3 linked regions of the Homo sapiens genome follow. The protein of the gene in region 3 interacts with the protein of the main gene of each other region in a pairwise test. Each region holds a gene or a part of one and is shown on either strand. Other genes may lie near its edges.

What was found.
Region 1: the proteins of SYNPO (region 3) and SGF29 interact in binary tests that used the Homo sapiens proteins (3 or more experiments, as listed by UniProt).
Region 2: the proteins of SYNPO (region 3) and WNK1 interact in a two-hybrid assay, tested with the Homo sapiens proteins (one large-scale study listed by IntAct).

What each region holds. Positions count from the first base shown.
Region 1 is NC_000016.10:28,581,415-28,584,975, reverse strand, and holds part of SGF29 (SAGA-associated factor 29), read right to left. Parts: intron 64-3,561; coding exon 1-63. UniProt on the Homo sapiens protein: Chromatin reader component of some histone acetyltransferase (HAT) SAGA-type complexes like the TFTC-HAT, ATAC or STAGA complexes.
Region 2 is NC_000012.12:899,074-902,634, reverse strand, and holds part of WNK1 (serine/threonine-protein kinase WNK1), read right to left. Parts: intron 2,160-3,561; coding exon 1,965-2,159; intron 1-1,964. UniProt on the Homo sapiens protein: Serine/threonine-protein kinase component of the WNK1-SPAK/OSR1 kinase cascade, which acts as a key regulator of blood pressure and regulatory volume increase by promoting ion influx.
Region 3 is NC_000005.10:150,647,132-150,650,692, forward strand, and holds part of SYNPO (synaptopodin), read left to right. Parts: intron 1-812; coding exon of another isoform or gene 813-1,144; coding exon 1,145-3,172; coding exon of another isoform or gene 3,173-3,202; exon of another isoform or gene 3,203-3,561. UniProt on the Homo sapiens protein: Actin-associated protein that may play a role in modulating actin-based shape and motility of dendritic spines and renal podocyte foot processes.

The DNA.
Region 1 (3,561 bases), on a different chromosome or scaffold from region 3:
CTGCATCCGCTCATGGGTCTTCTGGATGTTCACTAAGTTGTGTTCGCTCCGCGAACGCTCTTCCTGTAAGGAAAAGAGCAGCAGGACATGACGGTGGCCCTTTGTGCTGCTGTGGTACCCTGCCAGCCAGGCCAGAGTCCCCATCCCCAAAATACGGCCCTCATTTTCTTTTTTTTTTTTTTTTTTTGAGATGGAGTCTCACTCTGTCGCCCAGGCTGGAGTGTAGTGGCACGATCTCGGCTCACTGCAAGCTCCGCCTCCCGGGTTCACGCCTTTCTCCTGCCTCAGCCTCCCGAGTAGCTGGGACTACAGGCGCCCGCCACCACGCCTGGTTAATTTTTTGTAGTTTTAGAAGAGACGGAGTTTCACCGTCTTAGCCAGGATGGTCTCGATCTCCTGACCTCGTGATCCGCCTGCCTCGGCCTCCCAAAGTGCTGGGATTACAGGCGTAAGCCAATGCGCCCGGCCTAATTTTTTGTATTTTTAGTAGAGACAGGGTTTCGCCATCTTGGCCAGGCTGGTCTTGAACTCCTGACCTCGTGATCCACCTGCCTCGGTTTCCCAAAGTGCTGGAATTACAGGCAAGGGCGCCCGGCTATGGCCCTCATTTTCTAAATCCAAATTCAGGAGTTCAAGATGATTTTCTCCTTTGACTAATGCAAAAGCATTATAAAAGGCCTTAAAGGGCCTGGTGCAGTGGCTTAAGCCTGTAATCCCAGCACTTTGGAAGGCCAAAGTGGGCAGATCACTTGAGATCAGGAGTTCAAGACCAGCCTGGCCAACATGATGAAACCCCACCTCTACTAAAAATACAAAAATTAGCCGGGCATTGTAGCATGTGCGTATAGTCCTAGCTACTCGGGAGGCTGAGGTTGCAGTGAGCTGAGATCATGTCACTGCACTCCAGCCTGGGTGACAGAGTGAGACTGTTAAAAAAAAAAAAAAAAGAAGGCATTAAAGTTAAATCATAAGTGATATCTTTAATGATAGTCCTTTATCAAAGAGACAAATCAATCTATACAGTCAACGCAATCCCCATCAAAATTCTAATTGACTTCTTTGCAGAAATTGACAAGTTCATCCTAAAATTCATATGGAAATTCACGGGACCCAGATTATCCCCAATCTTGGAAAAAGAAAAAAAAAGTTGGAGAACTCATACTTCCCAATTTCAAAATTTATTACGAAGCTACGGTAATCACGATGGTGTGGTACTGGCATATAGATCAACAGAACAGAATTCAGAGTCCAGAAATAGACACATACAGGTATGATCAATTGATGTGGAGAAGAAGGGGTGGGGAAGAATGCTGGTGCAATTCCTCCCATATCAGTCATCCTGGGAGCAGAGCTGCAACTGCAGATGCTGGAAACTGAGACAGATCCTAAGAAAGAAATTATGACTATGCTTTTTAGCCTTTATGTGAGAATTTTTAAGTGCCTGATGGGTGGGTTGCGCCTTTACCTCAACCTGCAAAATGAGGTTAACAGTGAACACAGCTAGCTAGCTGCCTAGTGCTCAAGACAGCCAATAGTCCATACCTGTGTAACCCCACCCTATATAAATGGGAATGGATTGGGGTTGGGGGGGGATACTTGCTAGACTAGTACTGCTGCCGCTGCAATCTGGACCAGGTACAGTGGCCAAAGCTAACATCCCTTACAAAGGTGGAAAAGTTTGGGTGAAAACCAATCACAAATGGAGAGGAGAAACAGTAGCCGAGTTAACAGAACAAATTAAATGGGTTATGCAATGAGGGAAATCCAATATTGTACTCATACCTCAAGAGAGGCTGAGAGAGAGAGAATGCCATCTCTTAGGTCAGTTACACTGGGTGCCTGAAAGGGCGAAGCCCTGTGTCTGTCAGGACCACGCCTGCTTTTGGAAGCTGACGGGTGAGATGGGAGTCTGGGAACTCGGCAGCAGCTGTCTGAGGGACACCCTGGTTGTATGGGATGATGATAAACTGTTCTAACTGTGGATGACTGAATGGAATGCGTAATCTGCCTGTATCTTTTTTTTCCTTTATTTATTTTTTTGAGACGGAGTTTCGCTCTTGTCGCCCAGGCTGGAGTGCAGTGGTGCGATCTTGGCTCACTGCAACCTCCACTTCCCAGGTTCAAGCGATTCTCCTGCCTCAGCCTCCCTAGTAGCTGGGATTACAAGCATGTACCACCACGCCCGGCTAATTTTTAGTAGAGATGGAGTTTCGCCATTTGGCCAGACTGGTCTCAAACTCCTGACCTCAGGTGATCCACCCGCCTCAGCCTCCCAACATGCTGGGATTACAGGCATGAGTTACCACGCCCAGCCCTTTTTTCCTTTATTTTACAATGTATTTTATTGATAAACTCTTCTTAGAGCAGTTTTGGTTTACAGAAAAGCTGAGCTGATGGCACAGAGTTCCTGTATGTATACCTGCTCTGCCCTGCGCAGTCTCCCCTATTGTTAACATCTTGCATTAGAGTGGTGCGTTTGTAACAACTGATGAGCCAATACTGTTAGATAATTAACTACATCCATCCCCATGATGGTTTACTCTGTGTGTTCTGCCGTTCTATGGGTTTGGACAACGCATCATGTTGCGTGCCCCCCATCATGGTACCCTGCAGAAGAGTTCCACCCCCTAAAATCCTCTGTGCTCCACCTATCCATCCCTTTCATCCTATCTCTCCCAAGGCCCTGGCTACCGCTCATCCTTTCACTCTCTAGTTTTGCTTTTCGTTTACAGTTGGAATACACAGCACGTAACCTTTCAGACTGGCATCTTTCACTTAGCAATGAGTGCCGGCATCTTCTGACTCTTACTCTCCAGGTTACGTCTAAAAGGAATACCATTTGGGAAGGAATTTCTGGGATCTACTCCTTCCTGGCTGTGCGGTGCACAACTGCCAGCAAACTGATCCTTGTGTAGCTATAAACCCTGAGTATCGTGGGCAAAATGTGGCAGAGCATGCCCGATAGCCTGCAGTGAGCTACAGGCACCAATACGCATCTCCCTTGTATCTGTGAAAGAAAAGATATCAAATAGGGGAAAAATGGCTTTTTTTTTTTTTGAGATGGAGTCTTGCTTTGTCACCCAGGCTGGAGTGCAGTGGCGCCATCTCGGCTCACTGCAACCTCTGCCTCCCGAGTTCAAGTGATTCTCCTGCCTCAGCCTCCCCAGTAGCTGGGATTATAGGCATCCGCCACCAAGCCTAGCTAATTTTTGTATTTTTAGTAGAGACAGCCAACATGGCAAAACCCCGTCTCTACTAAAAATACAAAAACAATTAGCCGGACATGGTGGTGTGTGCCTGTAATCCCAGCTACTAGGGAGACTGAGGCAGAAGAATCGCTTGAACCCAGGAGGCAGAGGTTGCAGTGAGCTGAGATCGCGCCACCGCACTCCAGCCTAGGTGACACAGTGAGACTCCGTCTCCAAAAAAAAAAGAGTGTTTTTGTTTGCCTGGATTAATAGGGTGGAAGGAAAAGATATGGGGCATTTTTGTTGGGTGTTAAAAATGTTCTGAAATTGATCGTGCTAATGGTTGCACAATTTTGTGAGCTGCGAAAAACCA
Region 2 (3,561 bases), on a different chromosome or scaffold from region 3:
CTGCAAAATCCCAGAAATCATGTTAGAAGGAGAATTTTCACTTGCAGATGCTGGGCTTTGATCTTTATTAGACTAAGTGCTTTATCAGAATAACCAAACTAAAAACCGCTTTTGATTTTATGGGGTTAGAGGACAGTAGTGGTGGAATGATCCAATGAAGAGATCCTAGCATCTTTTCAACTGGTAGCTGCTTAGGCTTAATAGAGAAGAAAAATAAGATTTCAATCTACTCTGACAAAGAATGGAAAAAAATGGTACATAATTTTTACCTGCTGCCAGGATCTAAGAGCATCATTGGTCAAAATGCTTTCTTCATTTCGTTTCTTTTTTTTGAGATAGAGTCTCACTCTGTCGCTCAGGCTGGGGTGCAGTGGTGCAATCATGGCTCACTGCAGTCTCAACCTCCTGGTCTTAAGGTGGTAATCCTCCCGCCTCAGCCTCCTGGGCAGCTGGGACTATAGGTGCACACCACCATGCCAGGCTAACTTTTTTTTTTTTTTTAGAGATGGGGTATCACCATGTTGCCCAGGGTTGGTCTCGAGCTCCTGGCCTCAAGCAATCTTCCCGCCTCGGCCTCCCAAAGTGCTGGGATTACAGGTGTACGCCACCGTGTCTGGCTGATTTCTCTCATTTCTAATGCTAGGGCAGACAGACAGCACTGACTACGACTGTGGAGTTCAGTCTTCATTATTCTAAATGACCCAGCAATCTATTGCCTAGATACCATATCCACTCTCTGTCACAGATCCATGAAGAAGCACTTCTACCAGAAAGTTACATTGAAATTTGTAGATAACTTGTTATTTTGACATTTTTTATCATAATTAATGTGGGGGCCCAAACTTCTGAGGGTAACAGTAATTCAGCCAAGCCACTGAGTAGATGATATACAAAAAGAGACAAATGAAAATGGACTGCGTGAAACATCAGATCCAAGCAGCAGAAACACAAGGACAAGGAAGGAGTAAAGGTGTTACACACAAAGAGCCAAGCAGGGCGTACTCAGAAATCGGGTCCTCCTGCCACCAGGTTTGAATGTCACCTGTTCAGATGCACAGTTAAACTTCGCACAGCCTGTGAGAGGGGAAAAACAGGGTAGAACAGAGAGAGGAGAAGAGACAGAACACAACTACAAGATGTTAGAAACTTGAGGCTGGAGTGGTGAAATGCACTAAGATGGCACACAGAAGAACAAGCTTCTGGGGGGAAGGTCAGATATGTAAGAGATGAAATATTAGGTCTTAATTCTACCCATCTGCAAAATGCGGAAGCTTTTCTTAGTTCGAATAATGCTAGCTAGTTTGCCCTCCTTACCAATCAAGTGCATTCTTCCTGTGAAGAGACTGATCTCTAATTTCTGTGAAACTGTGGCAAAGGCACATAAGCCAGTACCTATATTTTTTTCATTCTTCTCACCCAGATGCCCAAGTCTTTTCAATTCTTGTTCTAATATGACTAAAAGCTCTTTCCTCTGTGGGAATTTTTTCAGCAATCACTAATAAACAGAGCTATATTTGGAAAGTAGATTATGGATAAAAAACTGAATTGTAAGGTTATTCATTTTAGTATGCCACTCCCATACTTAAAAGTAACAAAATTCTACAATGGCTAAGAAAATGTATTAGCTTCAGAAACTGCTAAAACACCTTAGAATTTCATCCAGGAAATCTCAGCCTAATATTAAAGCCTAAGTTCCAAATCCCAAATGAGCAAGTCATATAGGCCACACAGATGTAACTTTTCACTGTAATTCCTTGAAAAAAAGTAATTTCACCTAATGGGAGCAGTGAGCCCACCGATTCTCATTATCACTCCACTTCCCTTTTCACCCAGATTCTTCAGTGTACAACACACAGGCTGTGTTCTGGTCAGCTAGTCTCCCAACCCGCCTTAACAGGCTTTTGTCCCAGGTATGGCAACATCTCCATTTTATTGTTTTTGGACGATGATGGTTGCTTTATTACCTTGACCTGGAGCAGAAAGGCTTGGTACTGAAATGGCACCATCACTGGTGAAGGCTGAATAGAGGTTGTCACTGGAGGGAGATGGCTTAAGGGGCTGTAACAGCTGATTCTGCCCGGACTCTGGGATGTTGCCAGGAGGGTGGAGGGTCTGCTGGGGGTGCAAGACTGAAGCTGCACTCTGACCAGACAGGTTACCTGCCAAAAGATAAAGTGGCATGAGGAAACATGTCCAGCTCTTCCCATGCACTCATCAGGCACTGTTCTTATACATTTGGTTTGTTCCACTGAGTGATGAATGATGGGTCAAAAGCTACAAACTGATGAGAAGAACAAAGTCCTCACTAACGGGAGAAGTGAGGAATGACACTAAGACTCAATAGATAGGCTGGGTGTTGTGGCTCACGCCTATAATATCCCAGCACTTTGGGAGGCCAAGGTGGGCGGATCACCTGAGGTCAGGAGTTCGAGACCAGCCTGGCCAACATGATGAAACCCTGTCTCTACTAAAAATATAAAAATTAGCCAGGCGTGGTGGAGGGTGCCTATAATCCCAGCTACTCAGGAGGCTGAGGAAGGAGAATTGCTTGAACCCAGAGGCAGAGGCTGCAGTGAGCCGACATCATGCCACTGCACTCAAAAAAAAAAAAAAAAAAAGAAAAGAATCCATAGGTAATAGGGCCATATGTACTATTCCAGAGCTTTTTAGCTTTAGAAAACCTAGATGGGCCACATGTCTGAGCAGCGTAAGAAGACCAGAGTACCTAGTGGATACCCAGATTCCATTCTGCAATTCCATGATTGCTTTTTTTTTTACCCTATTAGAAAATGTGTTGAATCATTATACAAAAAGGTTTGCTAGGCAGTCTCTGCTTAGACTTTCCTATAAACGTGCATCAGAGCAAATACAAAAGAGGTGTTCAAAAATGATGGAGGTCACTACAGAGCAATGGGTGTTTAAAATTATTTTTGGTAGGTTGCTTTCAATAGGTCGGTTGTCCTAAAATTGACTCTCTGCTCCCCGGTTCCCAGTTGAATTCAAGTCCACTCAAAAAGTATGTCAAAATTAGGATTAGAATTTGATTAGGATCATAGCTGGGCATAGTGGCTCATGCCTGTAATCCGCACTTTGGGAGGCTGAGGCGGGCGGATCACCTGAGGCCAGAAGTTTCAGACCAGTCTGGCCAACATAGTGCAACTAAAAATACAAAAATACAAAAATTAGCCAGGTGTTCTTATACATTTGGTTTGGGATTACATGCTTGTAATCCCAGCTACTTGGGAGGCTGGGGCATGAGAATTGCTTGAACCTGGGAGTTGGAGGTTGAGCCACTGCCGACTCTGCCTCAAAAAAACAAAAACAAAAACAAAAAAGATCTGATTGGGATCAGATCAGAAATTAGCTGATTTCTCTTACAATCACATCTCTACTAATGGGCTGCATGAACTGGCCCTAATGTGCTACATTTGGATATCTGTGAACCTTTCCAGAGAATGGAACTGCTAAGAAGTTTGCAACTGCTTTTTAACATATTTTAACCTTCTTTTACTTTTCAACTAATTGTGTTAACACTACCATAATTTCACCAAAGGATTAGAA
Region 3 (3,561 bases):
ACTCGGGAGGCTGAGGCAGGAGAATCACTTGAACCTGGGAGGCGGAGGTTGCAGTGAGCCGAGATTGCGCCGCTGCGCTCTAGCCTGGGCGACAAGAGCAAAAACTCCTTCTCAAAAAAAAAAAAAAAAAGTCAGGCAAGGTCATTGCCCCTTGGAGCTATGCTGTAGGTGAGGAGACAGATAATAGACAGGGAAACATAAAGATCATTTCAACTTGGTGAATGCTATGGAGAAAACAAAACAGATGGGATAGGAGAAGGAAAGGTGCCTCCAGAGAGGGGACATTCCAGCTGAGACTTGAGTGGCAAGATAGGAACCAGCATGGACTGCTACCTGGGAAAAGATTATTCCAAGGAGAGCGAGCAGCAAGTCCAAAGGCCCTGGGGCAGGAACATACTTGGCATTTTCAAGGAAGAGAAAGCAAGCCAGTGTGGCAGAGCCTAGTGAGAGAGGAGAAGGCAGTGGGGAGGAACTGGGGACACGGTGGGACTTCTAGGGTGAGGTGTTCGTACTCAGTTTGGTAAAGTGCCATATCAGCAACTGTCAGGGGGATTCCAAATCAGGGACCAGTTAATCCTGAGAGGATAATCAGGGTGGCGTAGACGTGGTGGCATTTGAGTTGGGCCATGAAAGGTAGGTCAGGGCTGATTACGAAGTGAGCTAATTCTAAGAAACAGTGAGTGACGATTAAATTCCAGAAGAGATCCTGTGTAGGAAGGGCCGAGGCGACCATCTCTGTCTGCCTGTTTGTCCGTGCACCCCTGTGTCACTGCATTCCTGTTTGCTAACTGGGCTTTTGTCCCTCCCTGTAGCGTTGGGCCGGAGCACTAGCCTCACGGAGAAGGATCTGAAAGAAGCCAAGGCGCGGAGCCAGCAGATTGCAGCCCAGCTGACCACCCCTCCCAGCTCCAATTCCCGTGGCGTCCAGCTCTTCAACAGGCGCCGGCAGAGGGTGAACGAGTTCACCTTGGAGAGCCACGGCCAGAGGGGACAGAAGCCCAGCCAGGAGTCCCTCAGAGTGCTCCCTTCAAGCCTCCCAGGCCATGCACCGGGGCTCAGCCTGAGTTCCACCTCGCTGCCGGAGCCAGGCCCTCCACGGCACCCCAGTCCCCAGAGCCCCGACAGAGGGGTCCCTGGCCACAGCATGGAGGGGTACTCAGAGGAGGCTAGCTTGCTGCGGCACCTGGAGAAGGTGGCCAGTGAGGAGGAAGAGGTACCACTGGTGGTTTATCTAAAGGAGAATGCAGCACTGCTGACAGCCAATGGGCTGCACCTGTCCCAAAACCGAGAGGCCCAGCAGTCCTCACCGGCCCCACCTCCAGCTGAGGTCCACAGCCCAGCTGCAGATGTCAACCAAAACCTTGCCTCGCCCAGTGCCACGCTCACCACACCAACTTCTAACAGCAGCCACAATCCGCCAGCCACCGATGTCAATCAGAACCCACCGGCAACTGTTGTCCCACAGAGCCTGCCACTTTCTAGCATCCAACAGAATTCCTCAGAGGCCCAACTCCCATCTAATGGCACAGGGCCTGCTTCCAAACCCAGCACCCTGTGTGCTGATGGGCAACCCCAGGCACCGGCTGAGGAGGTGAGATGCAGCACACTCCTAATTGACAAGGTATCAACTCCAGCTACCACCACCAGCACCTTCTCCAGAGAAGCTACGCTCATCCCCAGCTCCAGGCCCCCAGCCTCAGATTTCATGTCCAGCTCCCTGCTCATTGACATCCAGCCCAACACCCTAGTGGTGTCAGCAGATCAAGAGATGTCTGGGCGAGCAGCTGCCACCACGCCCACCAAGGTCTACAGTGAGGTCCACTTCACACTGGCCAAGCCCCCATCAGTGGTCAACAGGACGGCCAGGCCTTTTGGGATCCAGGCGCCAGGGGGCACCAGCCAGATGGAGAGGAGCCCCATGCTAGAGAGACGACATTTTGGGGAGAAGGCCCCGGCTCCCCAGCCCCCCAGTTTGCCAGACAGGAGCCCCCGGCCACAGAGACACATAATGTCCCGCAGCCCCATGGTGGAAAGGAGGATGATGGGGCAGCGAAGCCCGGCCTCAGAGAGACGCCCCTTGGGGAACTTCACTGCACCCCCCACCTACACTGAGACCTTGTCCACAGCCCCTCTGGCTTCCTGGGTGAGGTCTCCTCCCTCATATTCTGTCCTGTATCCCAGCTCCGACCCCAAGTCTTCTCATCTGAAGGGCCAGGCGGTTCCTGCCAGCAAGACGGGCATTCTGGAGGAGTCGATGGCCCGCCGGGGCAGCCGCAAATCCATGTTTACTTTCGTGGAGAAGCCCAAGGTGACCCCGAATCCAGACTTGCTGGATCTGGTACAGACAGCGGATGAGAAGCGGCGGCAGAGGGACCAGGGGGAGGTAGGCGTGGAGGAGGAGCCCTTCGCACTGGGGGCCGAGGCCTCCAACTTCCAGCAGGAGCCAGCACCTCGTGACAGGGCCAGCCCCGCGGCGGCGGAGGAGGTGGTACCAGAGTGGGCCTCCTGCCTCAAGTCACCCCGCATCCAGGCCAAGCCGAAGCCCAAACCCAACCAGAACCTCTCCGAGGCCTCTGGGAAGGGAGCTGAGCTCTACGCCCGCCGCCAGTCACGGATGGAGAAATATGTCATCGAGTCTTCAAGCCACACGCCAGAGCTGGCCCGCTGCCCATCACCTACCATGTCCCTGCCTTCCTCCTGGAAATACCCCACTAACGCCCCCGGGGCCTTCCGAGTGGCATCCCGAAGCCCAGCCCGGACCCCGCCTGCCTCCCTCTACCATGGCTACCTGCCTGAGAACGGGGTCCTGCGCCCAGAGCCCACCAAGCAGCCGCCATACCAGCTGCGCCCCTCGCTCTTTGTCCTCTCACCTATCAAGGAGCCTGCCAAGGTCTCACCAAGAGCTGCCTCGCCCGCCAAGCCCAGCTCCTTGGACCTGGTGCCCAACCTGCCCAAGGGGGCTCTCCCTCCATCTCCTGCCCTGCCTCGGCCCTCGCGCTCCTCACCGGGCCTCTACACCTCCCCCGGCCAGGACAGCCTGCAGCCCACTGCCGTGAGCCCTCCTTACGGCGGTGACATCTCCCCCGTGTCTCCCTCCAGGGCGTGGTCTCCCCGAGCCAAGCAGGCCCCCAGGCCCTCCTTCTCTACCCGGAACGCCGGGATCGAGGCTCAGGTGTGGAAGCCTTCCTTCTGCTTCAAGTAACGAACCCCACGGGGGTCCCACTGCCGGTCAAGTTCCCCTCCTTGAGGGCCAGATGGAGAGCAGATGTGGCAGGAAATGGCACAGAGCTGAGTGAGGAGAATGGGGAGTCCATGGTTCAAGGTCAGATGCGGCCACCAGCTGGCTTTGTGACCTTGGGCGAGTCGCCTCCCCTCTCTGAGCTGAAGCCGCCCCTCCCCTACTACAACAGGGGTCGGACTCCATGTCTGAGCGGGGAGGAGGGTCATGGAGAGAGAACTGTCTGGCAGCCCTGATGCGGTAGAGGGGCATCCTCTGGCCTTTGTGAGCTGTAGGGATGCAGAGTCTGATGCCAGCGTCTTGCTGGGGGAGTGGCCTAGAAG